Homo sapiens: one gene and its partners. The protein of the gene in region 1 purifies or fractionates together with the protein of each later gene. This does not show direct contact. Each region holds a gene or a part of one and is shown on either strand. Other genes may lie near its edges.

Region 1 (5,994 bases):
CGCCCCAGCCCTCCCCAGCCCCGGCCACGCTGGCCCTCCAGGCCCTGCCCTCCCTCCGCCTTCAGAACTGAGCACGAGAAGCCCTCTTCTCCCGCACAAGTCCTAGTCCTTCAGATGGCAGCTTGGAAGTCACTTCTTCCAGGAAGCCCTCCCTCTGCCCCTCCTAGGGCCCAGACAGGGCTGTCCTTCACCAGCCAGAGTGCGGCCCAGTGGCCGGATCCTGCCGCCTGCCCACCACACCCAGTGCCCGGAGGACCCCTATGCCCTGGACTGGGTTTGTGAAGAGCACTTACTGGTCCCCGTGGTCCGAGTGGCACGCGGCCCCCACACTGGCCATCAGCACTCGGCACTGCGCAAGCACCACGTGGCCTGCGGAGACAGAGCACATGCCCCTGAGATGGGGCTCCAGCCAGGTTGCCCTTCTGTCCCTTCCCGGGGTCCTGCTGGGCGCAGGCTGCTTCCCTCCCTCTGTGCCACCTGGTGGAATTCCAGCACTGGCCATTCTGGCAGCTGGGGAGAGATCTCACAGCAGGAGCCGAAGAAAACGCTTCCTTTCTCCCTTGGCTGCACAAACGCAGACACTATTCTGCCTCACAAAGCTGGCCTTGAAAATCGCATTTGTAATCAACTGCCTGCTAAGACACCTGGAGTCCTGACCCGCTCCTTCCTTACAAGCTGGCAGCCCCGGCAATATCACGTCTCCACCTGTGTTCTGGATGGTAGAGACACGTGGGAGTTCTATTAAGCCAGAAGGCATTTCCCTCTTCTTTCACAAGCACAGCCATTAATGACTGCTGATGTAATTAACCTGAGAATTTCAGCCAGGTGCAGTGGCTTACACCTGTAATCCCAGCACTTTGGGAGGCCAAGGTAGAAGGACTGCTTGAGCCAGGAGTTTGAGACCAGCCTGGGCAACACAGGGAAACCCTATCTCTACAAAATATTTTTTAAAAATTAGCCAAGGCCGGGCATAGTGGCTCATGCCTGTAATCCCAGCACTTTGGGGGGCCAAGGTGGGTGGATCGCCTGAGGTCAGGAGTTCGAGACCAGCCTTGCCAACATGGCAACACCCCGTGTCTACTTAAAATACAAAAATTAGCCCAGCGTGGTGGCAGGCACCTGTAATCCCAGCTACTCTGGACGCTGAGGCAGGAGAATCGCTTGAACCCAGGAGGTGGAGGTTGTGGTGAGCCGAGATCATACCACTGTACTCAAGCCTGGGCAATAAGAGTGAAACTCCATCTCAAAAAAAAAAAAAAAAGTTATCCAGGTGTGGTGGTGCATGCCTGTAGTCCCAGCTACTAGGGAGGCTGAGGCAGGAGGATCACTTGAACCCAGAAGGTCAAGGCTACAGTGGGCTGTGATTGCGCCACAGCACTCCAGCCTGGGTGACGACAGAGTGAGACCCTGAATCAAAAAATAAATAAATAAAATGAGAACCTCTGTCTCATTTAAAGTAACACAGGTTGTCACTGAACACAAAGTCTGACCCCAGAACAAGGGGAACGTTGACAGAGAACTCTCCTTTCCATGGTGAGGAATTTGAGATGGTCAAGGAGACCCAGGCTTCACTGCCCACAAGAACGCATTTCAGCCCAGGTTCTCATGAACGCAGCCATCATGACGGTTACCCACGGGTTCTTCTTCATGGGCCAAACACGACTGCTGGGTTTCTCTGCGTGATCCAGGAAGAAGAAAGAAGCAACACTTTCATCTTCTAAGAAGTCAAAAACTTGTTTACAGATGCAGCTCATCGTGATCTCAGGGCCACTATAACCTCCTCCCAAATGACATGCGGCTGGTCAATCACCTGGACTTCCACTCTCAGGGAGTCAGGGCAGACCAGGTTTTAGGTGCATCTGGGACGGGGGTGATCCTAACTGCTCCTAGCCGAGGCAGATGTTGCAGGAAATCCAGATTTGCACTTGATCCTTACTCTGCCAGTTATTTTTGTTGTTTTTTGTTTGTTTGAGACAGAGTCTCACTCACTCTGTCACCCAAGCTGGAGTGCAGTGGCTCAATTATGGCTCACTGCAACCTCCAGGTTCAAGCAATTCTCCTGCCTCAGCCTCCCAAGTAGCTGGGACTACAGGTGCACACCACTATGCCTGGCTAATTTTTTGTAGTTTTTGGTAGAGATGGGGTTTCTCCATGTTGGCCAGGCTGGACTCAATCTCTTGACCTTGTGATCAGCCTGCCTCAGCCTCCAAAAGTGCTAGGATTACAGGCACGAGCCACTGTGCCCAGCCTCTGCCAGTTTTTAAAACTGATCACCTCCCCTTTCCCTCACTCAAATATTTAATTAAAACTGCCAACAAAATAGACAAATGTCTAGAATTTAATGTTGCTTCCTTCCCTGACGGCTTTTGGGGTGGCGCTAATGCCAGACACGAGAGTTTGCCACAGTCCACATCCCAGCAGCAGCAAAATGAGCCACGTCAGGGAGAGGAGGGGCCAGCGGCGAGAGCCCTGTGGACCACAGCACAGCCACCCGAGCCTGCTCTTGGCAACCCCAGCAAGGCCCTCTGACAGCCCGAGCTGTGTCATGCTCAGGGCAGGGCGAGTGGGAGTCACTGGCTCGGACCAGAATCCACGCACCGAGGGAGCTGTGCTCACACTCGGAAAGACCAGGGTGAGGGGCCATCACCTTGAAGCCGGGGTCCCCGGATGGAAAAGTTACAGGTATTGGGAAGCCGCTGGGTGCCTGGAAACTGGCTATTCAGATGGATTCTCTTCTGACCGAATTCAGCCTGAAAAAAATAAGTGAAATATTTGGTGACAGCTTCAAAGACACCACCACCAGCAACTGTTTGAAATTTAGACTTTTCCAGAAACACAACTTCAGCAGGTGCATACTTTTCAATCAGCATCTACCCAGAATAGTTACGGGGACGGACTATGGAAAGCAAAGTTAATTAGGAGAAAAACCAAATATTCAGAAACATATGAACCTTCCACATAAACCATGAGGTATACCACCTCTGCATATTTGATCCTGTGTCTCTGAAAAAGATCATGCCCCTGGCCTAGGGTCCTGCTTTCGGGGTTTCAGATCCCAATGTACTTTCTGCCACTGTTCTTTCTTCCCTCACTGCATCCTGCTGAGTTCCAGGCTACGCTGCAATCCCCACAGGTCCTGGGGTCTGGGAGCACCACACCCCTCCTCTCTGGGCACCTGCCCCACGCACCCTCCCCCTCCTGGTGCCCACCCCACGCTGCGCTCACTTCCAGCCTCTCTTCCAGGTAGTCGCGGACGTCCCTCATGTGGGCCTCATAAGCCTCGCAGTTCTGGGTCACCAGCTCCGCGGCCTGGGGGCAGACACACAACAAGTGGATGCACAATTCTTGCAAAATAAAGGAGGGCCAAAAAGCTTTCAACGGTACAGGTGGCATTTCCTGAAACTGCTCATTCTCCTGACAGTCACAGACAGACCATATTTTTTGAGTGCTGCCATTTGGAGGGTGTGGAAGTGCCCCAGAAACTGACTTCACCAGGTACCTCCTGACAGCACCAGGCACTGGAGATGCCTCAGCAAAGCAGCCCTGAAAGGGCTCCCTCGAGGAGCCAGCATCCCAGAGAGGCAGACGGACAAAAGCAGGGGAAGAGGGGAACAGACTCCTACCCACCAGTTGGCGCTGTGAAGGCACCTCGCAGGCCCAAGGTGGGGTGGTGACAGAGATGGCTGTACAAGGGCAGGGAATGGCGTCCCAGCAAGGGCTTTGCAGGGGACAGACAGACATTCTGTCTCTAGAACAGAGGGGCCTGGCGTGGCGGGTGGAGAGTGTGGAGGGGGTGAAGGCGCAGGGACAGATCGACAGGCCCTGCAGGCCCGGCCACGGGGCAGACGCAGTGAGGCTGAGGGAGGGATGCGATGGTCTGACTGGCCTGTCTGTTGGTCATTCTGTGGCCGTGTGGAAAATGGCAGCAGCAGGCCCCCAGGAGGCCATGGCAGGCATCCAGACCCTTGGTCTAGGGTTGGTGGCCATGAAAATGGACATGAGGCCGGTAGTGGGTGTATTCTGGAATCCAGACAGACAGGAAGGTGCTGCATTGGAGGCAGGGGACGATGACAAGGAGGGACTGAGGGCATCCCCCGGACTTCAGAGGTGAGAACCTGGATAGCAAGAGGTGCCCAGGGTGGGAAGAGGGTTGGAGGAGAGCAGTCGGGACAGGTTTTGAACTCAGAGGAATGGATCTCTCAGGACATGGGCCAGGGCCTAGCTGAGATGTCAAGTTTAAAGGCAGGAGCACAAGCTAGCATCACAGTGACAGGACAGACGGACCCACAAGGGCTCAGGTGCAGGGCTGCCAGCACGCAACCAAGGCAGAAAGGAATGGGTGAGGGAAAGCACGCTGGGGAGGGCGTGTGCAGGATGGAGTCTAGGCTGGGTGGCGGAGGGGGGCTGTCTAGAGCGCTGGTGGCATTGGGGTCTGGGCTGGGCGAAGCTGAAGAACCAGTGGGGGTGTGGTGCTGTGGCTGGGACCCAGCTGTGGCACTTGTGCCATTACAGGTGCAGATGCAGCTGCAGGAGCACGGAGAAGGTCAGGGGCTGGGGGGCTTCCAGCACTGTGAGCTGAAGCTCTACCTAGGAAGCTGTTACCGTGATTCCCATCTGGCAGCCAGGACTCAGGGAGTTCCAGCGACCTGACCCAAGGCACACGGTGAGTGAAGCTTCAAGCCAGGATTTGAACCCTGGGTATTTCAAAGCCTGTGGACGGCACCACTACTTCATCACTCAGGTCAATACGAGCAGGTACCGGACTCCACTTAAAACACACTCTTCCGGCTGGGCGTGGTGGCTCATGCCTGTAATCCCAGCACTTTGGGAGGCCAAGGCGGGTGGATCACCTGAGGTTAGGAGTTCGAGACCAGCTGGACAACATGGTGAAACCCTGTCTCTACTAAAAATACAAAAATTAGCCAGGCATGGTGGCGCATGCCTGTGGTTCCAACTACTTGGAGACTGAAGTGGGAGAATCTCTTGAACCCGGGAGATGGAGGCTGCAGTGAGCCAAGGTCGTGCCACTGCACTCCAGCCTGGGTGACAGAGTGAGACTCCATCTCAAACAAACACACACTCTTCCTTCTAGTAAATGTAGCCACAGTTATCACTGTTAATAATATAATTTTGAATATTCTAAGTAACAGGGAATCCATTCATACTCTTCCCAAGGCCCGGCCTCCTGGGCGCTAAGCCCTTTCTCTGTACTGGGGATACTGAGGCCGACATGGCCAAGCCCCTGCTCTCGGGGAAGCAGAAGGTGGGGCATACATCTGAACACACTACAGAGAAACATCAGATAGGGGAAATAAAGCAGTGTCAGGGATAGAGGGTGACAGCAGGGGACATGGGGGAACCAATGTAGCTGTGGTTCATGGAGGGTTGCTTGAAGGTGGTGGCCTTTGACCAGAGGCCGCACAGTGAGGGAGCAGCCTGCAGACGCCGAGGTGTAACCAGTACCTCTGCCTTCGCACGGCAAAACCTGAGCCTGGTTACTGTCGCAGAAGCAGGACAGGCCCCAGTGGAGGGCTGGTGGCAGGTGCTGGATTGGCCACCCCACAGACCAATCGGGGACAGAACGTCGATGGTGCGGGGGCTGCCGACGCCTTTGGGAATGGTGAACCTGCAGCTTGACACTTCACCTCTGCTGTAACAGTATCACTGTTTCTCATGTCAGAAGAGACACAGACAAGGAGTTTTTCCCTTTTAAATGCTAAACAAGTGCCACTAATCCACAGATCTGAAAAAGTACAGCTCTCCAGGTTGATAAATCAGATTCCAGGCTTTTTCTTGTCAGTCCGCTTATGAGATCACGAATATGATCTCCCTAAAGCCCCAGATTCCTACTAGAGCCGCTGGGGACACTGATGACAAAGCAATCAACTCATCTCCTCAAGCTCACCAGGGCTCACCTTCCCAAGGCCAGCAATCATTGGGGTGTTCTCTGTCCTGTAAGAAACAAGGGATTAAGCAAGAATAAACAAATGTCTC
Region 2 (5,994 bases), on another chromosome or scaffold:
AAACTCTGTCTCAAAAAAAAAAAAAACTAATGACCTGGGGAAATGTTTTTTTAAAAAAAAGTCAGTTGTCAAACCATGTGTGGTTTGACAATTCATACATACAGAAAAATGTTGGATACACACTACTGCCTCGTCTCTTCACACCCACTTGTATTCTGAAACCCCATAAGGAGATCACACTGGCCCCACAGGTTAAGAATGGGAGGCAGACTCCTTAGGAGAGGGGTGGGCACTTTACCAAAGAGGATGGTGGAGATCCTCCTCTGGGCGTACATGGTGAAACCTTCATTGAGCCAGAATTCACCCCAGTTGGCGTTGGTGACCAGGTTCCCAAACCAACTGTGGGAGATCTCATGGATGATGACATCTGCCAAGGAGCGGTCCCCAGCTAGCAGGCAGGGGGTGACAAAGGTCAGACAAGGGTTCTCCATTCCTCCAAATGGAAAGGACGGTGGCATGAAGAGCAAGTCATACCTGCCGAGAAGCGGGGAGGTCACCAAGAGGCCCTGGCTTCCCGGAGCAGACCCTACCTCGCCTCCCTTTCCAGCCTATTTCCAAGCCCTAACAGATGCAGTCACTAAACAGGCAGAGTACGACTTCGGGCCCAGTGCGGAAAATAAAGCCCAGGCTCCTCAATGCTTCTCCCACGTGGCTCCCCTGCCTTGCTGGGACTTCCCTCATCGAGGTGGTGTCTGCTCTCCTGGAGCTCACTCTCCAGGCATTTGTTTCCCTCTCTCCTTCCAAGCAGGGGTGGAGGTGATAAATGTATTATCAGCTCCATCACATGGAGTTCCCTGGAGGCCAACTTGGGGTCATAAAGACCAACCTGGAGCCTTTTATCTAAGGAGCCTAAAGTCTGAAGATGTCAAAGTTAAAAACAGAGTGTGGGGAAACTTCCAGCAATGGGAAAACACAGGTCAACAAAGGACCTTGACGGTGCTGCCCCATCTCAAACTTGGCAACTGCAGGTCACATTTTGAACACCTCAAGAACCTCTTCTCTGCCGGGCCTGGTGGCTCACACCTGTAATCCCAGCACTTTGGGACCAAGGTGGACAGATCACCTGAGGTCAGGAGTTCGAGACCAGCCTGGCCAACATGGTGAAACCCTGTCTCTACTAAAAATACAAAAATTAGCTGAGTGTGGTGGAGGGCGTCTGTAATCCCAGCTACTCTGGAGGCTGAGGCAGGAGAATCGCTTGAACCTGGGAGGTGGAGGTTGCAGTGAGCTGAGATCACGCCACTGCCCTCCAGCCTGGGTGACAGAGCGAGACTCCATCTCAAAACACACACACACACACACACACACACACACACACACACACACAAAGAACCTCATCTCCTAGGCCCTCTCCTCAGCAACAGTGAGAAGCCTGGCTCATACCCTCCTCTCTTCCTCCTCTCCTTCACTTCTGGGATCAGGGAAACTTTGCTCTGGGAGGCAGGAGGTGGAAAAGCCACACGAAGAGGAAGAATGGAAGCCAGTGACTCAGTTTAACAGGAGACACTAGAGTCAATGTGATACCACACCTTCCCCAAACATAAGGTCCAAAAAGCTTCTCTCCTGTTGCCAAAAATTCTTCTATCACCCCGTTGTACTCCTCCTTGGCAGCATCAATCAGGCAGGGCTCAGCCCACACCCGGCTCCTAAAGACAAGAGAGCAGAGAAAGCAGAATGGTGTTTAGAGACCATCGCAGTGACCTGATCCTGAAAGCACCTGTAGGAAATTGGCCTCCGCCAAGTGAATGTGACAATGCAGTCAGCCACAGTGACGGAGTGCAAGATCGGATCACCACACAGATCCAAGAGACCGCTCACCACACCTGAGAAACAAGAACCCAAGACAGCCTCATGGAGGTGGAACCGTGCTACGCAGTTATGGCTTCACTACTGAATGCGATCTTGCAAAAGTGATTTAACCTCTGTGAGCCTCAGTTTCCTCATCTGTAAAATGAGTGAAGATTAAATAAGACAACACACAAAAGCCCTTCAAACATTTATACAGTAAATGTTAGTTTTCTTCTCCCTACTTAGAGGAGAGATAAGAAAGCGTTCTAATAGTAGAATCTGGAATTGAATAAAACCTTAAGAGACAAACCTTTTTTATTTTTTTTTTAAGACAGGTTCTTGCTCTGTTGCCCAGGCTAGAGTACAGTGGTGTGATCCAACCTCCACCTCCTGGGGCTCAAGTGATCCTTCCATCTCAGCTCCCCAACCCCAGTAGCTAGGACTACAGTTGCACATCATCATGCCTGGCTAATTTTTTTATTTTTGTAGAGGTAGGGTTTCGCTATGTTGCCCTGGCTGGTCTTGAACTCCTGGGCTCAAGTGATTCACCTGCCTCAGCCTCTCAAAGTGCTGGGATTATAGGCATGAGCCACTGTGTCCGACCCAAACCTACTAATGTTAATAGAAATTTGTTAACTGCCTTAGGTACAATAATGGGATTGTGGTTATAAGGGAGAATGCCTCTATTCTTCAGAGAGGCACACAGATTTACTTGCTTTTAAATGGTCTAGCAAAAATAAAAACAAATCCACTCATAAAACTAATATGACAAAGTAGATGGTTCTATAGGTGTTCAATGCATCATCCTTTCAATTTTCTAAATATTTGAAATTTTCTTAATAAAAAGATAGGGAAACAAAGGTGGCTTGGAGGAAACAAAAACAAAAACAAAAACAAAACAAGAAGATCCAGTCTAATGGAAAGATGCAATGGACTCAGGGATCCTGCAGCCAAAGGCTCTGCTTGACCAAGAGCCCCTGGCTGCGCTTAGAACTGCTTTTCCACACAGACATATGAATGAGACTGGCTGGGCCTGGTGGCTCATGTCTGTAATCCCAGTACTTCGGTAGGCCGAAGTGGGTGGTTCACCTGAGGTCAAGAGTACCAGACCAGCCTGACCAACATGGTGAAAGGCTGTTTCTACTAAAAAAAAAAAAAAAAAAAAAAAAAATTAGCAGGACATGGTAGTGTATGCCTGTAATCCCAGCTACCTGAGAGGCTGAGGCAGGAGAATCGCTTGAACCTGGGTGGCAGAGGTTGCGGGGAGCCAAGATTGCACCATCGCACTCCAGCCTGGGTGACAGAGTAAGACTCTGTTTCAAAAAAAAAAAAAAAAGAGACTGATGGCAAAGTGGGATGGGTCCAGGCCCGGATGAGGGAAAACTTCCTCTGCGTTTGCTGAAGCATAGGAACTATTCTAACAGGAAGAAAAGATACAGGGAAACCAGTATCAGGTACTTCCCAAATATCAAAAGCAAAGACGTAGCCATGGAACACTGCATATGCATGTGAGGAAGCACCGAGAGTCTGGGATTACTTGAGGACAGGATCAGATTGCAATGAGGGAGGCAGTGGCAGGAGGTGGGACATGAGATGCCCAAGAGGGTCGGGTCATGAAGAGCCTCAGGTGCACTGTTACAGAACCGGACCTTCAGAGCCATGGGAGCATTTTAAGCCAACAAGTGACATTATCAGATTTAGTTTTAAGATATCATCCTGGCTGCAGAACACAGAAAATATGTTAAACTACAAGAATGGGTGAGCTCTCCAAGGAAAGCATGTAGAAGAAAAGAACAGGTCAAAGACAGAGCCTTGGGCAACATCGACACACAAGGAGCTGGGCAGAGGAGTCAGGGAAGGAGATGAGAAAAGGACTAACCAGGAGGCCTGATGACCAGCATGGGTGGTGTCACAGAAGCCAGAGGAGGGTCAATGGGGGCAGAAGAAAAACAGCAGAACATGAAGGCAAGGGCTAAAAAGCATCACATATGTTATCCGTATTGAGGCGAATGGCCTCTCTTACTAGTTTCAACGGCATGGCAAGGGTGGGGGGCTGGATTCCAATGGGTTGTAGCAATAAATGATTGTGGGGTGGGGGGGTTTCAAGAAGTGCAGCCAGTGCGTATACATGCCACTGAAGTCACCTGGCTACAGAGGGAAGGACAGTGTGTCGTGCCAGAAGAGAATATGGAGTTAAGGGTTTTTTGAGTTGTTTGTTTGTTTGTTGAGACGGAGTCTTGCTCTGTTGCCCAGGCTGGAGTGCAGTGGCGCGATCTCGGCTCACTGCAAGCTCCACCTCCCGGGTTCACACCATTCTCCTGCCTCAGCCTCCCAAGTAGCTGGGACTACAGGCGTGAGCCACTGCACCTGGCCGAGTTTGTTTTTTTTTTTTGTTTTGGCTTTTTTTTGAGGTGGAGTCTCACTTTGTCACCCAGGCTGGAGTGCAGTAGTGCAATCTCGGCTCACTGCAACCTCCACCTCCCACGTTCAAGTGATTCTCCTGCCTCAGCCTCCTGAGTAGCTGGGATTATAGGTGTGCACCACCATGTCCGGCTGATTTTTGTGTTTTTAGGAGAGATGGGGTTTCACCACGTTGGCCAGGCTAGTCTCAAACTCCTGACCTCTGGTGATCCTCCCACCTTGGCCTCCCAAAGTGCTGGGATTACAAGCGTGAGCCACCACACCCAGCCTTGAGTTTGTTTTTTGCTTTGCTATAGATCTTAGAGAAACTGGTGCTTGTCTAGAGGGGGAGGCTGCAGATTTGAAGAGAGAGATGTAAATGATGAGGCAAAGTCCCAGAGGACATGTAAGGGAAGAGATTTGGCTTTAAACAGAAGGAAGGACCTTTGTTGCAGTCCGGAAGGATAAAAGCAGATGAAGATAACTTTTTAAGTGGAGGACAGGAAACTGACATAATCATATCTGATGAATTTAATATTCTCAATAAAACAGGAGACAAGACCTTCTGCTTAAATGAGGGGATGGGATTGGATAGCAAACTTAAAGAGAAGAGTAAAGTCTTAGAACAGCTTAAAGGGAGTGAGATGGAAAGGTAAATAAGAGGACTGTTGAACAACCTTGAAAGCACACCTGCAGTTGAAGACTGTACATCTGTTACATTTTTCTGGAAAACCCCACACATGTCTATTTCAACTTTCCTTTAATTCCAACTTTTCACGAAGAATTGAGAAAGGTGTAGTGGTTATTACTGTGTAGTTTCACTATTTTCTACATCTCCCAAATACCCACTTATAGAAGTAGAGAAAAGGAATTGTATAACAAGGGACTGGGACATTATAGCAGCGGGAAGTGGGCAAGGGGCTTTGGGGTGTTGGTAAGAGGTAACCAACCACACACTTGGGCCAGGGAGGGAAGCCCAGTCAGGAGGGTCTTGACTGCCCAGGAGAAATGAGTGGCTTGCCGGAAGGGAGGCTGCCATGAGCTCAAGGAGGAGACATGGTGGAATATAGTGGGAGAGAGGCCGTCAGAGAGCTGGAAGGTTAGCAGAGTCAGGATGAATGAGGACAAGGGGCTCAAGGGCCTTAAAAGTTCAGATATGGTACAGTTCATGACAATGACGATGTCTAGGCTCTAGACTCCAGAGCATGGGTGTGAATATGGGTGGCTGACAGAGTGGAGAAGGCTCCCTGAGTAGAGGTCAAGAAACCCTGAAGGTTGGTGTTGTGGCTCATGCCTGCAATCCCAACACTTTGGGAGGCCGAGGTGGGAGGATCTCTTGAGCCCAGGAGTTCAAGATCAGCCTGGACAACATAGCAAGACCTTGCTCCTGCAGAAAATAAATAAAATTAACTGGGCATGGTGACAGAGTAGCTGTGGTCCCAGCTACTCTGGAGACTGAAGTGGGAGGACTGCTTGAGCCTGGTAGCTTGAGGTTCAATGGGCTGTTATTGTGCCACTGCATTCCAGCCTGGGCAAGAGAGCGAGGCAAGAAAAGAAAGAAAGAGGGAGGGAGGGAGGGAGGGAGAAAGGCACAAGAAACCCTGCAGCCACCCTCAACCCTGGGTGTTAGGAGAGAAAAGTCGCCAAAGATGATGTGACAGGAAACCAGACAGAAAAAGATCATGGGACGGCAGTCAGTATCTTCAAGGAATTACTTTGTGAATTGTTCTACCACCACCTTGGATGTCAAAATTACCACAGTCCTTCAGCCCAGTGGACTTCAGCTTGTTACAACTAGAAGGTTTA
Region 3 (5,994 bases), on another chromosome or scaffold:
GACATGAGTTTAGCCATGGTGGCAGGCCAGGTGCCAAGTTCCCCTTGAGCTACTGTGAGAACTGGAGAGTCAGGGCCTAGTGATTCGGGGCAGTGGCCATCACCCCCAGCTGTTGAGAGCGGTTACTTCCTGCAGGGCTCTGCCTTCCCTGAATTGGGAGTGCACAGCCTGTGCTTTACCCGACTGCAGGCAAGAGCAGAAGCTCACTGAGCACCAGGGCAGGTGACGGGGCATCGCTGAGGTCCAGGGGCAGGAGGGAGGAGCAAGAGCAGGTGGCCTTGGGCCTGGGCCTTGGCGCTGCCTGGAGTTTGAATGTGGTGGGCAGGGTGTGAAGGAGATACTGGAGTTCCATAAGGGAGCGATGGGAGCAGGAGGAAACGGAGTTAGAATCATCCATGGGTCCCAGGTGTGAAGGCCCCAAATGCCAACCTGGGGAGGAGCAAGGTGCCTGCTTCTGAACCCTAACCCGGAAGGGTTCACTTGAGCCAAAGGCTCCCTGTGTTCCATTGGCTGGGGGGGTCCTGCCTTCTCCCTCCACCCACACCAGCCAAGTTGACGCCTCTGGGAATCTCGCAGCTGGACAGGAGCCAGAGCAGGGGTCCCTTCTGTATCCTCAGGTCCTCCTCTCACAGCAGCGCCCTCGCCTGCTTCCCACACTGCATCTGCTGGGAACTCCAAGTCAGGTTCCCCCAGCGCTGGTGGCCCAGGGTGGGTGACCCCTCCTGCTATTCTAAGCTGTAATATCAAGGCAGGTGGACAATGCACTTCATCCCAGCAGCCCTTCTCGGGCTCCTGCTTTAAGCCACTCGGGGAGACAAACCCTAGCACTTCCCTCACCCATTGCATCCTGCTGCCGTGGAGCTCTGGGGGACCAGCCTCTGCAGAGGGTCTGAACCCTGCAGGGCTAGTGTGGGCCAGCCTGGAGCAGCCCCCGGGCCTGTGCACTCGGCCCGTGCTGTGCTGTCAGTGGCTCCTTCACACCACGGCTTCTAGGAGGGGCTGCTAGAATCACCAAATCCATTCTACATGGGAGTTTGCCCACGAGGAAGGGGCCTCGTTAACGTTGTGTGTGTGACTCCTACGGACCAGGTCACCTCAACGCTCATGCATAGAGTCACGGTTCCTTTGTGCCGGGGCAGTGGGGGCAGCAGCACTGCTGAGAGGGGGAAGGCTGAACCATAAAGGTTCACTAGACGTGGCCTCGAGGATAGAGGGGAATCGGGAGCGCCTCCTTGCTGGGCTCACAGCCCAGGGTGATGAGTATAAAAAGGAAGGCACGCACAGCATGGGGCCGAGGAGGTTGTTGCCTGGGGGAGCTGAGGGCTCTTGTCGAGACCATGCTCCAGTGGGCCTCCAAGTGGGATGGTGAGAAATTGTACACGGGTGAGTAAGGCTTCGCTACTGCCCAGAAAAACAGTTTCCCATGAGCCATCCCCGACAGTGTTCTCCAGGTGTCAGCCCTCAGGTCTGCCGTCCCGTTTCTGTTGGCAGGGCTGCCCTGAGAGTGCTCTTCCTAATACCACTGCTGCCAACTGTCTGGGGCCAGTGCACCCGGCCTGCCACCGTGGCTAAACTTATGTCCCAAAAAAGCAACCAGCATCCCACCCTTCCACCAAAACCCCAAGGGCCAGTTGTCAAAACCCCCATGTCCCAACTCTCAAATGCCACACCTGTGTGAGTCACGCAGATGCTGATGTTCGGTGCTGATCTGGGCTGCAGTGGGATGGAGCAGCAGGTATCAGCCCAGGCTGCGTGTTAGAACCACCTGGGAGCTCTAAAAAGCGCTGGCTGCTGACGCCCCCAGAGGCACTAAGTTTACAGGGAAGTCTCAGGGCAGCAGGAGCTTGCAGGCCTCCAGAAGGAACACCCGTGGGCATCTGGGCATGGCTAGGAGTGTTTCTGGTAAGTTCAAGGCATTGAGCCTGCACACAAGTCTCTTGGCCTCTTGCCGAGTGCACGTTCTGATTTGGCAGGAAGGTGGGCCTGAGCCCTGCTGGTGGGGGCTGTGCTGGTCTGAGGTCCGCGCTGTAAGGGACTGGTGGGATGCCACATTGGAAGGAGGCCGCCCAGCTCAGTGTCTCTTACTGGGGCATGTGATGATTTTTCCCCACGTCTCTGTGGAAAAGATGAAAGTAGCTGCATTCGTTGCCCATTCTCCAGTCCCACTGGTAACTGTGTACCTGTCTCCAAGGAGACCTGCATCCAAAGATCTATGCCATATTGTGGCAACATGTGGCATACCACAGAGATCAAGAATTCCTGCGGAAAAGCCCTGAGCTCAGAGGAGAGGGGCCAGCCAGGAGCTGGCCTCCCTTTGCAGGAGAAAGGCATGAGGAGCCTGCACCCTAGCTGTTATTTTTGTCTCAGGCTCAGATATGGAGGGGGCTAAACGCCGCCCTCTGGAAGCAGCTGTCTGGTTGTGGACCAGCCTTGTGTGCCCTCCACTGCAGCAGTCAGGGAGGTTAGGGTAGGAGCGTCAGCGTTCACGGACAGCCTTGGGCTTTTACAGTGATCAGAGAGACCCCTGCCCTCAGCAGGGCCAGCACTCCTGGGCAGGGAGAGAGAAGAAACCTCACAAACCAGGGCCTGAAGCGAATGTGGCCAGCGAAGTCCTCCTGGACCGACCCCCTTGTGGCTCCCCGCGACGGGTGCTGGTCGGCGGGGTGCAGGCCACGTGTCTGCACACGTTAGGTGCTCAGGTGCTGACGTGCTGGGCCTTGGTTAGACGCAGGTCTGGGCCCAGGTCTGGGTTAGGTACCTTGGAGGGAGGGGAATGAAGGGCAGGGTCTGTAGGTGACTGGGTAGCTTTGGAAAGGTTTCTTAGGGCTCGTGGGCCGTGCATTCGGGCAGCTGGGGCTACTGGGGCCTCAGAGCACCTGCACTGCCATGGATTGAGGGGCGTCTGCCCCCTCCATTACCCAGAAGCTTCGTTGGTGGAAAGCGGGTGGCAGAGGGCAGGGCAGTGTGTCATCAGCTTACCCGCCCAGTGTGTCTCCTTCACAGGGTCACAGTAAATCGATCCAGTGTCTGACGGTGCATAAAAACGGCGGCAAGTCCTACATTTACTCTGGGAGCCACGACGGACACATTAATATCCTTTGACTCAAAGAGCTGGCTCCGGAGCCGCTGGCTCTAGGGGGGAATTTCCTGTTCCCATGATGCCAGAGGCCAGGCCAGCCAGGTGGCTCCAGCTGCAGCCACAGCCACACGCTCTTCTGACCCGTGTGGCTTCTAGGGGTGGCCTGTCTGTACATGGGGACAGGCAACTGTCCCCTGGAGTTGTCCTTGGCAACTCCAGGGCTTATGCTGAGGAAAAGCCATGGGCGGCTCCGACCTGATCAGTCCCTTCTTGTCGTGCAACCCTGAGAGTGTGGCTTAACGGCCCTGAGCTTGGGCTGCCACTACCTCTGCCAATGGCACCTGGCGCCAGCCTTGGCCCTACTCCACATGGTGGGTTTCTTGATTCCTAGAATTCACAAGCACCTGGACACCCTTACGTTGGGTCCCCTTGTTTTAAAAATAGGAAAACCAGAGCCCAGAGAGCTGATGTGCCCGCCCCAGAGTCATGCAGCCTGTGGTCCACAGAGCCAGGGCTGGAGCTCCTGCGAGGTGCCTTGTGGCCCTTCGGTGATGTTCCCTGGAGGTGTTTGTGTCCCCCTTATAAGTCCTTGTCTGGGTTTCTTTAAATGAGTCCTGGTTTCTCCCTGATGATGGGGGCTTCTGTTGTGTTTTTCCTGCATGGCCTGGGGCTGGTGACACCCTGCTCACGGGTGTGTCTTGAACCTTGGAGCCACCATCTGCAGAGTGCCTGGGCAGGGATGCCCACACACGTTGCTGATGATGGCACCTGCTGTGCGTTGTTCTGCTGCCCTCCCTGAGCACCGTGCTGTGTTGGAGACTGCCTTTTGTGTGGACAGCTCTGGTCCGCATGTGCTGTACCTCCCAAAGGGACTGTCCGGGACCCAAGGAGGTCCCCCCAGGCTGGGAGAGGAGGGCAGACATGCCACCCTCTGCCCCCAAAACATAAAGAAATGTGGGGTTAGAGGGTTGCGCCTACCCGATAACTAGTAGCAGAGGAGACGCCGGAGCCTCCCCAGCTTGCTGGTCCCCAGTAGGCCTTCAGCACGGCTCCCTTTCTGCCTCATCCCAATCCCTGTGTGGTGCACCCACACTTCAGATACCCCTTCCTAAGAACGTGTCAACAGTGGACACTGCAGGCTTCCCAGGGGGAATGGTTATGTCCGTTTGCGGCGAGATTCTCATTCTTGATGTAAATGGAGAATCTTAGGACTGAAGCCACACCTGAGAACACCCAGCAGTCCTGGGAGCCGGGCTTTTCCTTAACCCCACCCTACATTACTGGGATTCAGAGACGGGGGAGAACGACTCCTTCGCTGGGAAAGGCCACACGAACCAGGTGTCCAGGATGACCGTGGATGAGTCGGGGCAGCTCATCAGCTGCAGCATGGACGACACCGTGCGGTACACCAGCCTCATGCTGCGGGACTACAGGTGAGAGCACTCGGGTCTGCGGGGGTTCCGGATGAGCCTCAGCTCCCCTCGGAGGGCTTGTGCCCTCCAGCAGTTACTGTTCTGGAGGACGCCTCACTTGCTCCTTTCATCTCTCCCACCCCGTCCCCAGCATTGTTCTCCTGTTGTTGGGCCCTGAGCCCAGCACTGTGTTACAGATCCAGGTGGTCTGGGTAATGCTCTTGCCCACAGACAACGACCAGGTGTGGACTCTGCCCTGGAAGCAGGGGCAGCAGATCACAGCCCTGTTCTCCAGGAACCTGCTGCGGTCTCTCCCTGTGTCCCTTTCCTCATCAGTAAAGGCGGGTACAGTGGAGCCTGCCTCAGGCTGTTGTGGATTAGGTGAGCCTGGCACAGGGCAGGTGCTGAGTACAAGACAGCATTCCCCTTCTGCTCAAGGGTGAGATGGGCACACAGTGATCTGGTTAAAAGACAATGTCTTGTTTGTTTTTGGTCTTGGGCCTTTGATTGGCAGTCAGTGGAGCTAGGAGAGTAGCAGTTTGCAAGTGATCTGAAGTCCTAAATGCAGTTGGAGGGACTTGAAAGAGAAATGTTCCAGGACCTGACGAGGCCACTGCACATCCAGTGTCCCCATGCCCAGGTCTGACCCCTCCTCTGGCCCTACATTTCTTGTGTAGACCCCTTTGTCACCCGGTAGTCCTGCCTAAGTCGTGTTGCCTGGGAGATGGGGACTCCTGGGGCCTGTTGATGGGAGCCTGGCACAGGGTGCAGCACGCAACTCCTAGCAGGTGTGCCGTCCTTGTAGGTAACACAGGCCCTGCCTGCCTGGCAGACTGGGCATCTGTAGGTAAATTGGGCCTCCCGATGAGTGGCAGAAGCGGCCCCAGAGCCCAGGCATCTGGGCCCTGGTCCTCTTTCTACTGCCCTGTGGTGACCCCACTCTTAACACGTCCCATAAAAGGGTCTTCCCTGGGCCAGATAACCCAAGGCAAGGCCCTTACAGAGCCAGCCTTGGCCTGGTGACCTTGCTGCAGAGCCTTTGGGGATGCCACACTTGGCCGAGTGACACAGAAATTTCCTTGATTATCTCAGTTTTCAAGAAGTTTGTGTGTATGAGTCTTTCTAGAACAAGTTTTGATAGCATTGGCCAAGGCTAAAAATAACATGATTTTCACCCATTAAAGGTAACGGATTCTTAAAAGTTACCCATCCATTTTGGGGAGCAGAGCTCAATTCTGTCTGTGCTCAGTAAACTCCAGTCTTTAGCCAACAGACAGGGGGACAAAAGCCACATCTGGGTGTAATGAGGGCTTACCACAGATAAATAGGAGCATAATCAACGCCTTTCACCGCCTCCCGCCCCTCCTTCCCCCCCCCCCACCCCTCCCCGGGCCCCCATTATGACTTATAATCTCTTTGCACCAGAGTCATGGATCGTTTTTTCGCTACCATCCCATATTTTAGCAAGTCTCTCCAGTATAGGTGGCAATAGAATTGCCTTCT
Region 4 (5,994 bases), on another chromosome or scaffold:
GTAGTCCCAGCTCTACTCGGGAGGCTGAGGCAGAAGAATGGCGTGAACCCGGGAGGCGGAGCTTGCAGTGAGCCGAGATCGCGCCACTGCACTCCAGCCTGGGCGACAGAGCGAGACTCCGTCTCAAAAAAAACAAAAACAAACAAAACAAAACAAAAATACTCAAGGCTAAGCCAAGTGATTGAAACTTTATCTAGAACTCAACTCAGTAACTCACTAAACCAGATTTGGCCACACAAATATAAAAATTTTCTGTACAACAAGAGGCACAGGCCAGGCACCGTGGCTCACGCCTGTAATCCTAGCATTTGGGAGTATGAGGCGGGAGGGTTGCTTGAGGCCAGGAGTTTGAGAACAGCCTGGGCAACACAGAGGGACTCTGTCTCTACTGATGGAAAATCAAAAAAATTATCCAGGTGTAGTATCACGTGCCTGTAGTCCCAGGTACTCGGGAGGCTGAGGCAGGAGGATTGCTTGAGCCCAGGAGATCAAGGCTGAAGTGAGTTATGATCACACCAGTCTGGGTAATAAAACTGAGACTCTGTCTTAGACAATAAATTAATTAATTAAATAAAAATAAAAGGCACCATGAGCAAGGTCAAAACAGGAAGAGAAAAATATTGCAACATACAAGAAAGAGGTAAAATATTTAATGAGGCTGGGCACAGTGGCTCATGCCTGTAACCCAGCACTTTGGGAGGCTAAGGTGGGAGGATTGCTTGAGCCCAGGAGTTTGAGACCAGCCTGGGTAACATAAGGAGACCCTGTCTCTATTTTGTTGTTGTTGTTGTTGTTGTCACCCAGGCTGGAGTGCAATGGCACCACCTCGGCCCACTGCAACCTCCGCCTCCCGGGTTCAAGCGATTCTTGTGCCTCAGCCTCCCAAGTAGTTGGGATTACAGGCACCCACCACCACGCCCAGCTAATTTTTATTAGAGATGGGATCTCACCATGTTGGGCAGGCTGGTCTTGAACTCCTGACCTCAGGTGATCTGCCAGCCTTAGCCTCCCAGAATGCTGGGATTATAGGCGTGAGCCACCATACCCAGCTTTTGTCTCTAGTTAAAAGAAAAAAAAAAGAAAGAAAGAAAGAAAAGAAAAAGATACATACCCAAATGATTTTTTTTTTTTTTGGATCAAAGAAGGAACTTTCCAACCAGCTCTGAGACCAGCCTATTGGCAGGGATGTAAATGAGTAAACCTTACTGGAGGGCAATTATTTACTTAGTTGTTTGTTTATTTTTCAGACAGGATCTCACTATGTTGCACTGGCCTCAAACTCCTGGGCTCAAACAATCTTCCTGCCTCAGACTCCCAAGTAGCTGGGATTATAGGCACACACTGTTTCTTAACAATATCCACCTATTGTATTTATAAATATTTATAGTCTTTCTTTTGCTAGTTTTACCTCCAGGAATTTATCTTAGAGAAATACATATGTATACAAAGATGTCCACACAGGGATATTTGCTGTGGCATTGCTTATGATATTGAGATAGCAGAAGCAGTCCATCAGTGCAGAACTGCTTAAATAAATTATGGCACATCCAGGCAACAGAACAGTATGCAGCCATTAAAAAGAACGAGTGCGGTCGGGTGCGGTGGCTCACGCCTGTAATCCCAGCACTCTGGGAGGCTGAGGTGGGTGGATCACGAGGTCAAGAGATCGAGACCAACCGGACTAACATGGTGAAACCCAGTATCCACTAAAAATACAAAAAATGGCCAGGTGCGGTGGCTCACGCCTGTAATCCCAGCACTTTGGGAGGCCGAGGCAGGCGAATCACGAGGTCGGGAGTTTGAGACCAGCCTGGCCAACATGGTGAAACCCCGTCTCTACTAAAAATACAAAAATTAGCTGGGCATGGTGGCGGGCGCCTGTAATCCCAACTACTCAAGAGGCTGAGGCAGGAGAATGGCTTGAACCCAGGAGGCGGAGGCGGAGGCGGAGGCGGAGGTTGCAGTGAGCCGAGATCGTGCCGCTGCACTCCAGACTCCAGCCGGGGCGACAGTGCGAGACTGTCTTAAAAAAAAAACAAAACAAAAATTAGCTGGGCGTGGGGGCGCACCCCTATAGTCCCAGCTACTCGGGAGGCTGAGGCAGGAGAATCTCTTGAACCTGGGAGGGGGAGGTTGCAGTGAGCCGAGATTGCGCCCCTGCACTCCAGCCTGGCGACAGAGGGAGACTCCATCTCAAAAAAAAAAAAAAAAAAAGAATGAGGGTTCAGTGGCTCACGCCTGTAATCCCAGCACTTTTGGAGGCCGAGGTGGCAGGATCACTTGAGCCCAGGAGTTTCAGACCAGTCTGAGCAACATGGTGAAACCCTGTCTCTAAATTAGCTGGGTGAGGTGGCATGCCCCTGTTGTCCCAGCAACTCTAGAGGCTGAGGTGGGAGGATCACATGAGCCCCAGGAAATGGCATATCATGTGAGCCCCATGAGGTACAGGCTGCAGTGAGCCGTGATCATGTCACTACACTCTAGCCTAGGTGACAGGAGTGAGACCCTGACTCAAAAATAAATAAATAAATATATAAATAAAATTAGCTGGGCATGGTGATGCACACCTGTAGTCCCAGTTACTCCAGAGGCTGAGGTGGGAGGACCACTTGAGACTGGCAGGGTCAAGGCTGCAGTGGACCATGATCGCACCATTGCACTCCAGCCTGGATAACAGAGTGAGACCTTGTCTCAAAAAAGAAAAAGAAAAAAAGAACCACTGTTCTAATCCAAGCAGTGTCACATATTTACTATGTGGTCCTTTCCGGAAAACGTTTGGATTTATTGTGTAATCCAACCAGTAGCTCATCTTTCAGGACTTGGTTTAAGTGTCACCTCCTCCAGGAAGTCTTCGTGCATCTCTCCAGCCCCCTCCCCAGGTTTCATTCCCTCTTTCTTACTCGCACGATATCCCATCCTCCTCCATCACATCATGTATCAACTGCCTGTCGTTACTGGCTTCTTGTCTGCCATCCCCACTAGACCACGAGGCGAAGGCTCTGGGACAGAGGATACGCTCAGTAAACACTGAACTATGGTCATACAGAATCCCCTGGCTCTGTCCCCTGAAGCCTGACAGCTGTGTGGGCTTGAAGTCCAGAAAGCCCTGTCCCCTTCCTCCCCCAGTGCCTCCACGAGAGATGGGGAGACTCACAAATGTCTTGGTGTACTGGTTAAGCATGAAGTCTCCACTGACAGCGTGCTGAAAGGCTTCCACGGCAAAGTCTGGTGGTGGGAAATCCGGGAAGCCCTGGCCCAAGTTCACGACGTCATGCTCACTGGCCAGTTTCACAAACTCCACCCTGGGTAACAAATGGAGAATCAGCACCAGCCCAGCCCTCCATGGTGACCTGGACTTCGGCCTGTTTAGAAAAACTGGACAACCGGCCAGGTGTGGTGGCTCACGCCTGTAATCCCAGCACTTTGGGAGGCCGAGGTGGGCGGATCACCTGAGGTCAGGAGTTTGAGACCAGCCTGGCCAACATGGTGAAACTCTGTCTTCACTAAAAATACAAAAGTTAGTCAGGCATGGTGGCAGGGGCCTGTAATCCCAGCTACTTGGAAGGCTGAGGCAGAAGAATCACTTGAACCCGGGAACCGGAGGTTGAAGTGAGCCGAGATCGCACCATTGCACTGCAGCCTGGATAACAAGAGTGAGATTCTGTCTTAAAAAAACAAAAACAAAAAACAAAAAACACACACATACACACACAAGAAAAACAAAAACTAGACAATCAGCAACTGTCCTGGCCTGAAGATCTGCCTAAGTGTCACAGCTGGTCCCCTACATTGAGATTAGGTCAGTCAGGCACATTGTTAATCGCAGGAATCAGCCCAGGGGCTTTCCAAGTTCTTCCACCATGACCCATAGGAAGAAATCATCTTTTTTTTTTTTTTTTGACAGAGTTTCGCTCTATCCCCTAGGCTGGAGTGCAGTGGTGCAATCTCAACTCACTGCAACCTCCGCCTCCCGAGGTCAAGCGATTCTCATGCCTCAGCCTCCTGAGTAGCTGGGATTACAGGCACCCGCCACCACGCCCAGCTAATTTTTGTATTTTTAGTACAGATGGGGTTTTGCTATGTTGGCCAGGCTGGTCTCGAACTCCTGACCTCAGGTGATCCACCGCCCCCCTTGGCCTCTCAAAGTGCTAGCAGTACAGGCGTGAGCCACCACTACCGGCCAAGAAATCACCTTTGCATCATCAACCCTGTGGAGCACAAACATGGAATGGAAGCTTCATCCTTCTTGGTGCAATCTACTGCAGTATTTTCTGTCCTGTCCTATCCTACTCTATTCTTTCCAAATACTAGTTGAGACCCCCTGTACAGATTGCATGACTCCTCCTTGGATTCGTCAACACCACAGTTAAACGCTCTGCTCATATAGCCTTCACAATGGCCTGTGAGGCACATCTTGTTCCTGGACCACTGTGGGGATAAGGAGTGGAGTGACTTGCCTAAAGCCTCCCAGCTAGTACAAGGCACAGCCAGCCAGCCTTTCTACTTCCATCTCAAGCAAAGTTTGATGCTCTTGACCCTACTCTGGGCAGAACAGGGCCCCACCAGCCCAGGCACACATCATCTCTGGACCCATAATCCTCTGTTCTGGCCCTGCCTGGGGGCCACCTCTCCAGGTGGGAGAAAGGCTGGGAAGCTGGATGAAGAGGCTGGTATGTGGTTTGGGGCTAGTTTGGAGCAGAGTGAAGACCTGGCTGAGTTGAATTTGCATACCAATAAATATGTCTAAAATGTGTCATTTTTGGCTGGGCCCGGTGGCTTATGCCTGTATTCCCCAGCACTTTGGAAGGCCGAGGAGGGCAGATCCCTTGAGGTCAGGAGTTTGAGACCAGCCTGGACAACATGCTGAAACCCCATTTTCTCTAAAGATATAAAAATTAGGGCCAGGCACAGTGGCTCATGCCTGTAATCCCAGTACTTTGGGAGGCTGAGGCGGGTGGATCACGAGGTCAGGAGTTCGAGACCAGCCTGGCAAACATGGTGAAATCTCATCTCTACTAAAAATACAAAAAAAAAAAAAAAATTAGCTGGGCGTGGTGGCGCACGCCTGTAATCCCAGCTACTTGGGAGGCTGAGGCAGGAGAATTGCTTGAACCTGTGAGGGGGAGGTTGCAGTGAGCCGAGATCATGCCACTGCACTCCAGCCTGGGTGACAGAGTAAGATTCTGTCTTGCGGGGGAAAAGAAAAAGAAAAAAAATTAGCTGGGCGTTGTGTTGCACGCCTGTAATCCCAGCTACTTGGAGGCTGAAGCAGGAGAATCATTTGAACCCAGGAGGCAGAGGTTGCAGTGAGCCGAGACCGCACCATTGCACTCCAGCCTGGGCGACAAGGGCAAAACTCCGTCTCAAAAATAAAATGAAAATAAAACAAGTCAAAAAAGAAAACAATATCAACCTCTGCAAATGTCTGGTGAAGAGCTGACTGTATCTTACTTGCTTATTTTACTTATCTTAGTTTATCTGACTCTATACCAAGTGAGAAAGAGTCATCCCTGGAAAGGCCTTAGCTTGGTGCCTGGGTAGAATGGCTTTGGACAGCATTTTACTTTTTCCTCCCCAACGCTCTCCAGGTGGGTATAACTCTTCATTTTGCAGCTGGGGAGATGAGGCTCAGAGCAGGTATGTCACCTGTCCTAGTGGCACAGTCATGCAGAAGAAAGCTGAGATTTGAACCAAGCCTACTCCCTCGGGCCCTGTCTCTCCTGAGCTATGGCTGGAATCTGGCAGTCTGTGTACCGCCACCATCTGGAGTACTACTGAGTTGCTGTAAACCCAGGGATGGCCAACCCATGCCCGAGGGGACACCCACACACCTCCCCAGCCCAGCTGGCTCACCAGGGGTTGTAGTCGATCCCGTCTAGCCTTCGGGCCTGCAGCTGTTTGGCCATGGCGAGCTGGAGACGAACAAGTGGAAGGTCAGAGATGGAATCTGTCTGGGTGCAGCAGTCCGAGCTTGCACACAGGAGGGACAGCTGC
Region 5 (5,994 bases), on another chromosome or scaffold:
AGACTTTTAAAAAATAATCCCAGGGAAGATACAATTCTGCCCTCAGAGACCTTTACTATACCATTGCCAAACCCAGTTTCCCACTTGCTCCTACGGAGTTCCCAGCTCCCACACGAAGCCCTATGTGCACTGGTCAGAAGACCCTGTCGTGTTGTCCCCAGAGGGCATGGCGCCAGTCACTTGAGTTTACTGTAGATCCCGCAGCCACCAGCCCTGATGAGGGACTGCTGAGTCAGAGAAGTTAGAACAGGAGGGCCCTTTGAATAATCACTGTAATCCCTCTCAACTTAGAGCGGACTGAGAAATTGCCCATGGGCTCCATAAAAAATGTGGTCAGTGAACCTATCGAAGGACATGAAGACTACCACATGATGGTAAGTAGCGCTGGCTGAGTTCAGCCCCTCTCACTAGACTCCCACTTCACCTGGCAGGGAACAGTTTTAACTGAGCTTGTTTAACGGAAGAAAACTCAGTCTCCAGAAGATGCACTTTTTTAAGACCCTGATGTTTTCTTCATCTACTTAGAACTTAATCCATGGCCTCTATTCCTAGTTCTGTTTATTTTACACCCCCCCACACACACCTTCCATCAGTTTAAAGGGGATATGTTTTCTCTTACCTCTTTTAGAAAAGTCTCTCTTGCCTCCCTCTTGTCGTGTGTTGTTTCTAGACCAGGAAAATAAATATAAAGAGGAGGAATGGCTTGTGGATTTTCATTATAAGTTTTATCTTGCTTATAAAACAAAACTTGCCCTTAGCCTTGGTGTTGGTGAGGGCACCAGACAGCCTCTTTTCTGTAATAACGATGCCGCTCTTCCAGGCCCAGTGGCTGAGGGCCTCGTGGGGAAGACGGGCTCTGTGGAGCGTCTATTCTGCATAGAACCCACTCTGCAGAGAGCAGGCTACTCTTTCCCAAGACAGAATGTTTGGAGGTGTTGTGCAGGTCTGCAGAACAAAGCAAAAAATTCATTCATCTGGTAAAATGAGCAGCTTAGGCAGTTTCCAAAATTTTCCCAGTGCTCTTTGGAGGAGCCACATTGACCACGAAGTTGATTCTGCAGTTGCCCATCAGGGGCCTGGCCTGAGCAGCTGTAATGTGAGGGCGGGGCCTCCGGCCATTGTTCATCCAAGGAGGCAGGCCTTTCAGTGTCCATCCCACAGTGATGAAGCCACATCAGCCCATCCCAGGGAAAAGAAGGAACTAGTGGTTTGACCAGTAGATTGGGATAACAAGTCCCAGGCAGAGAGATGTGTTGGAAGATCCTCTTGCTATAGAAAAAAATCAAAGGGGCTTAAAATATGGTGGGCAAGGGAGGCAGCCCTGTTGGCATCCTGCCTAGTGTGGCTGTAGCAAGGCTGTAGCTGGGAGTGCAGTCCCTAGGCTGTGGGGCTCTTGGGGTTTTGTCTTCTGGAAGTGATGATGCCCCTTGGCAGCCCTTCCACCCCTACTCTCTCTGTAGTCTTTTTTTTTTTTTTTTTTTTTGAGACGGAATCTCGCTCTGTCACCAGGCTGAAGTGCAGTGGCGCTATCTCGGCTCACTGCAGCCTCTGCCTCCCAGGTTCAGGCGATTCTCCTGCCTCTGCCTCCTGAGTAGCAGGGATTACAGGCTCACGCCACCACACCCAGCTAATTTTTGTATTTTTAGTAGAGATGGGGTTTCACCATGTTGGCCAAGATGGTCTCAATCTCTTGACCTGGCGATCCGCCCACCTCAGCCTCCCAAAGTGCTGGGGTTACAGGCGTGAGCCTCCATGCCCAGCCCTCTCTCTGTAGTCTTTATTACAAGGATTGCAGACAAATTGGTTTGGCCTGGTCAGTTATTTTTTTCTGTTTTAACAGTTGGGCCAGGCGTGGTGGCTCATGCCTGTAATCCCAGCACTTTGGGAGGCTGAGGTGGGCGGATCATGAGGTCAGGAGTTTGAGACCAGCCTGACCAACATGGTGAAGCCCCGTCTCTACTAAAATTACAAAGATTAGCTGGGCGTGGTGGCGGGCACCTGTAATCCCAGCTACTCAGGAGGCTGAGGCAGGAGAACTGCTTGAATTGCTTGAACCTGGGAGGCGAAGGTTGTAGTGAGCAGAGATCGTGCCACTACACTCCAGCCTAGGTGACAGAGACTCTGTCTCAAAAAACAAACAAAAAAACAAAACAAAAAAAAACAGTTGGACTTGAATGTTTTTAACTGGGCCCCATCACTCCTTTTTGAATAGTTTGTGTTGCCAGTCACACCCTGTAGGGTTTGTAGCCTGACTTTTCAAGCAGTGTGGTGGTAGGGAGTCCAAGGAAGTTGAGTGGACTGTTTTGGACGTCTTTGGAGGAATTGGTGTGGATGGGTAATGACTTAGTATTTCATTGAAATGTTCATTTCTCTCGAGTTATTTCTGGCAGAGGATAGCTCTAGTAGTCCCCTTCTCTTTTCCAAACACCTTTACCTTTGTCCTAATGAAAGTACTTAGTTATCTCTTTGGGCAGATGCTATTTCTCTAGCTAAATTAACATGTCATCATTCACAGTTGGAAAACTGTGGCTGTGCTTTTTCATTTTTAGAGAAATGTTTTTAAAATACAGAAAAGAGGCTGGGCGCAGTGGCTCACACCTGTAATCCCAGCACTTTGGGAGGCCGAGGTGGGTGAGTCACTTGAGGTCAGGAGTTTAAGACCAGCCTGGCCAACATGGTGAAACCCTGTCTCTACTGAAAATACAAATATTTAGCTGGGCATGGTGGCGCGCACCTGTAATCCCAGCTACTTGGGAGGCTAAGGGAGGAGAATCGCTTGAAAGTGGGAGGCGGAGGTTGCAGTGAGCTGAGATTGCACCGCTGCACTCCAGCCTGGGCAACAGAGAGAGACTCCAGCTCAGAAAAAATAAAAATAAAATACAGAAAAGAAAGAGAATAACTGTCACAAACCCATATATCCATCACTGAGAAGTGGCAATTGTAAATATTTTGTAATTTGCTTTAATTTTTTTAAATAAAAGAAATAAAGTTTATTCACAGCAATGATGGCCCCACTGTCTTCCCCTCCCCCATTACCATCGTCATGTGTCACGTGCGTCCTTCCCATCTATCCATTCTTTGATTTACACGTGTATCCACGAACAAGATGGAGTGTTGTTTTGTGCTTCCAGTTTTCGTAAATGGTATTATGTATTGTTCTACAACTTGCTTTTCTTTGGTTCAACATAAGAATCTGTCAGTATTAACTGTAGATCCATATGGACCCAGTTGATACCTCTTTAAAAAGAGCTCCAGTATTGGTGTGACTAAGCCTTGTCACTTTGAATTCTGCATTCCCTTACTGATGGATATGTAGGTTGCCCCAGGTTTTTGTGGTTTCAGACAGTGCTGCAATGAACATTCATACCTGTTTTCTTGAGCATGTGTGACAGGTTTTCTAGGGCAGCGTTTCTCCAACTGTGGTCCCTGGATCAGTAGTGTTGCATCACCTGGGAGCTTGCTAGTTTCTCAGGCCCCACCCCAGACCTCCCCAAATTAGAAACTTCACAGGGTTGGAGCCTGCTGATCCATGTTCCAGCAAGCCCCCCGGATGGCTCTGATGACCACTCAGGTTTGAGAACTGCTGCTTTAGGGTTGGCTCAGCTTAACCCTCAGCCTGCCTGTTTTTGTTTTTGGTTGGGAGAATGCTCCCCACGTGCAAAGTTTTGTTTGGTTTTTCTTCCCTTTTTAATTAACTCACATCCCAACCCTCACCCATGTTTGTCCTGCCTGCTTGGTCTCCCGACCTCTGAAGTACCGCTTGGTTTTCCTTTTTCCCTTCCAGGCGTTTCAGTTGGGCCCCACGGAAGCCTCTTACTACTGGGTGTACTGGGTTCCAACTCAATATGTGGATGCAATCAAAGACACTGTGCTGGGGAAATGGCAGTATTTTTGAAAGCACTTTCACCTCTGGCCCAGGAGACTGACCCAAAGTGAAGGACATTGCCGGGAGAGGCCTGCAGCATCCCTGGATTTCAGAGTTCTGGAACTTTGTTCATAAAAAATCTATATTCAATCTGAGGTGATGTGGTGACTGAAGCCAGAGGTGATGTACTTTCACCATTAGCTTAATTTTAACTTAAAATTACCAGTTCCCTTTCTTGCAGTCAGCTTCATACCATTTTTAAAGTCAATACGATGGAAATCAATAAATCTGAATTCCGAACATGTTGTGTGGAATACTCTTAAGTGTGTTTGAGAGTAGATCTGCCAATTATGTTGACAAGGGAATGATCAAAAGCTTTGTTTTTTTTAAAAAAAAAAAAAGCAGTTTCAATTGAAATATTTTCATACATCTTTGGTTGCAAACATTTGGACTGCATTGCAATGAGTTGGGGTGTTTTTTTTTTCCTTTTTTGTATAAAATTGTATGCAAAATGGGGGTGGGTTAGTAAGCCACATATTTCTGTCCATTGATTCAGATTTAATTCTTTCCCTTTTTCATTCTCTCGCTTCCTCAATTTGAGTTTTTGTTTTAAGAACCCAAAGATGTCAGTTCTTCTTTTGGTACCTCATCAACGCTTCCTTTCCTGGGCTCCCTCCCGCCGTGCTGCTGCTGCCTGTGAACGCACGGTGGGAGAGGAAGAGCTGCTCAGTCTTGGGCAAGGAGCTCTCACACTTGCTGTGGTGTTCGTTGAGCAGCAGAGTATCTCCCAGTGACTCCTGTTTAAATGTCTTGCCCTTTGGGCCCCCATCTCCAAGGAGTTCCATTGCTGGTTGGATGATTGTCTGCACCCCTCACTGAGCTTGGCCTAGAGGCCCAGCCTGGCATGGTTGTGCCTGGGCTGTGCCGCTCAACAGCCCCAGCTCCCAAGCAGACAAAGACCTCTTCCAGGAGGAGCCAGGTAGAAGATAGTTATACAGCCATATAGCTGCAGATCCAGATAACCTTCTTTCTTTGGAAGTTTTCAAGAAATTCTTAAGCAGTCCAAGGATGATTTCAATTATGCTTCTCCATTGGGTCCTTCTGCTCATGCATTCAGTTCAAGTGTCCTTTATCCCAGGTTCAGAGATGCTGCCTTTCTGAAGAAGACATCTGACCCTAGCAGGTTGGCCAGTGTTATTGAACAACAAAAATGGGATAAATTGCTTTCATGATTAGCTCACCTTCTTCTGGTTTTAGCCCTTCTGTTCTCTGTACACGTGAACTTCTGTCATCTCCTTCTGGCTTGGTTGCCTCTGAAAGGAGGGAAAGTCTCTTGGTAAATTATCTCTTTTGTGCTGTTTGCTGTTTCTCTGCTGCCGTCTTTGCAGTTCTCCTCTCACTGGTTGCAGGCTTTCATAGTAAGGTTTGGCGAGAAATGTTCCAAACATCACATTTTGGATTCTAGGCTGTCACCCCTCATTCTGTGAAACGTATTAGCATGTGTTCGCCCAAGATGACTATTCCTTGTGAGCCAGTTAATGATGATATTCTACGCCCTTCCCTTCTAAGCTGTAGTTCAGGAATCCAGCCCACATAGACAGACTCTTGCTTTCCATGGTGTAGTCAATGCCAAGTGATGCATCTAGGCAGGAAAATCTACTCTTTGCTTTTTTGGGGGCAATTAGTACATTTGTGAAGTGCAGCATCCAAGAAACAGCCTGTTTTTTCATCCCTTGAGAAAGGAGCAGTCATTGCAGCTTTTCTGTCCTTGTCGGCCTGCAGTTCCTGGGGAAAAGAGTACATCTGAGCTACTTGTCCAAGCCTCTGTCTGCAGGTGACAGGTTTTGGGGGAAATGAGATGCATTAAGTAGAACATCATCTCGGGTCAGACATTGCCCCTTTTGTTTGCCAATGCCCCAGTCCTAGAGACTTGTCCTGACAGTGCCGCACACCTACTTTTGATCTCTCAGAGCAGGTGGCTCCATCCCCAGACTAGCCTGGCTGCTCTCCGAGGCCCCTCCACCTGCTCCCCTTATTGCCCCATTCTTGTGGCTTGCCGGGCCACTTGGCCTCCCTTCTTGCCGGTGACAGCGTTCCATCATCTCCCCGCTCCCCAAGGGCCAACTGCT

The links.
Region 2: the proteins of SCLY (region 1) and RNPEP fractionate together in Homo sapiens (co-fractionation; one large-scale study listed by BioGRID). This does not show direct contact.
Region 3: the proteins of SCLY (region 1) and WDR1 fractionate together in Homo sapiens (co-fractionation; one large-scale study listed by BioGRID). This does not show direct contact.
Region 4: the proteins of SCLY (region 1) and KYAT1 fractionate together in Homo sapiens (co-fractionation; one large-scale study listed by BioGRID). This does not show direct contact.
Region 5: the proteins of SCLY (region 1) and UBFD1 fractionate together in Homo sapiens (co-fractionation; one large-scale study listed by BioGRID). This does not show direct contact.

The regions. Positions count from the first base shown.
Region 1 is NC_000002.12:238,091,176-238,097,169, reverse strand, and holds part of SCLY (selenocysteine lyase), read right to left. Parts: intron 5,953-5,994; coding exon 5,916-5,952; intron 3,310-5,915; coding exon 3,226-3,309; intron 2,751-3,225; coding exon 2,648-2,750; intron 370-2,647; coding exon 294-369; intron 1-293. UniProt on the Homo sapiens protein: Catalyzes the decomposition of L-selenocysteine to L-alanine and elemental selenium.
Region 2 is NC_000001.11:201,991,799-201,997,792, reverse strand, and holds part of RNPEP (aminopeptidase B), read right to left. Parts: intron 1,647-5,994; coding exon 1,530-1,646; exon of another isoform or gene 1,384-1,529; intron 475-1,383; coding exon 239-474; intron 1-238. UniProt on the Homo sapiens protein: Exopeptidase which selectively removes arginine and/or lysine residues from the N-terminus of several peptide substrates including Arg(0)-Leu-enkephalin, Arg(0)-Met-enkephalin and Arg(-1)-Lys(0)-somatostatin-14.
Region 3 is NC_000004.12:10,081,540-10,087,533, reverse strand, and holds part of WDR1 (WD repeat-containing protein 1), read left to right. Parts: intron 1-3,003; coding exon 3,004-3,091; intron 3,092-4,355; coding exon 4,356-4,512; intron 4,513-5,994.
Region 4 is NC_000009.12:128,839,500-128,845,493, forward strand, and holds part of KYAT1 (kynurenine--oxoglutarate transaminase 1), read right to left. Parts: exon of another isoform or gene 5,913-5,994; coding exon of another isoform or gene 5,907-5,912; coding exon 5,854-5,906; intron 3,662-5,853; exon of another isoform or gene 3,303-3,661; coding exon 3,155-3,302; intron 1-3,154. Other genes in the region: KYAT1-SPOUT1 (uncharacterized protein LOC127739546), read right to left, coding at 3,155-3,302, 5,854-5,906. UniProt on the Homo sapiens protein: Catalyzes the irreversible transamination of the L-tryptophan metabolite L-kynurenine to form kynurenic acid (KA), an intermediate in the tryptophan catabolic pathway which is also a broad spectrum antagonist of the three ionotropic excitatory amino acid receptors among others.
Region 5 is NC_000016.10:23,566,696-23,572,689, forward strand, and holds part of UBFD1 (ubiquitin domain-containing protein UBFD1), read left to right. Parts: exon of another isoform or gene 1-285; intron 286-291; coding exon 292-374; exon of another isoform or gene 375-375; intron 376-3,784; coding exon 3,785-3,895; coding exon of another isoform or gene 3,896-3,936; 3' UTR 3,937-5,994. UniProt on the Homo sapiens protein: May play a role as NF-kappa-B regulator.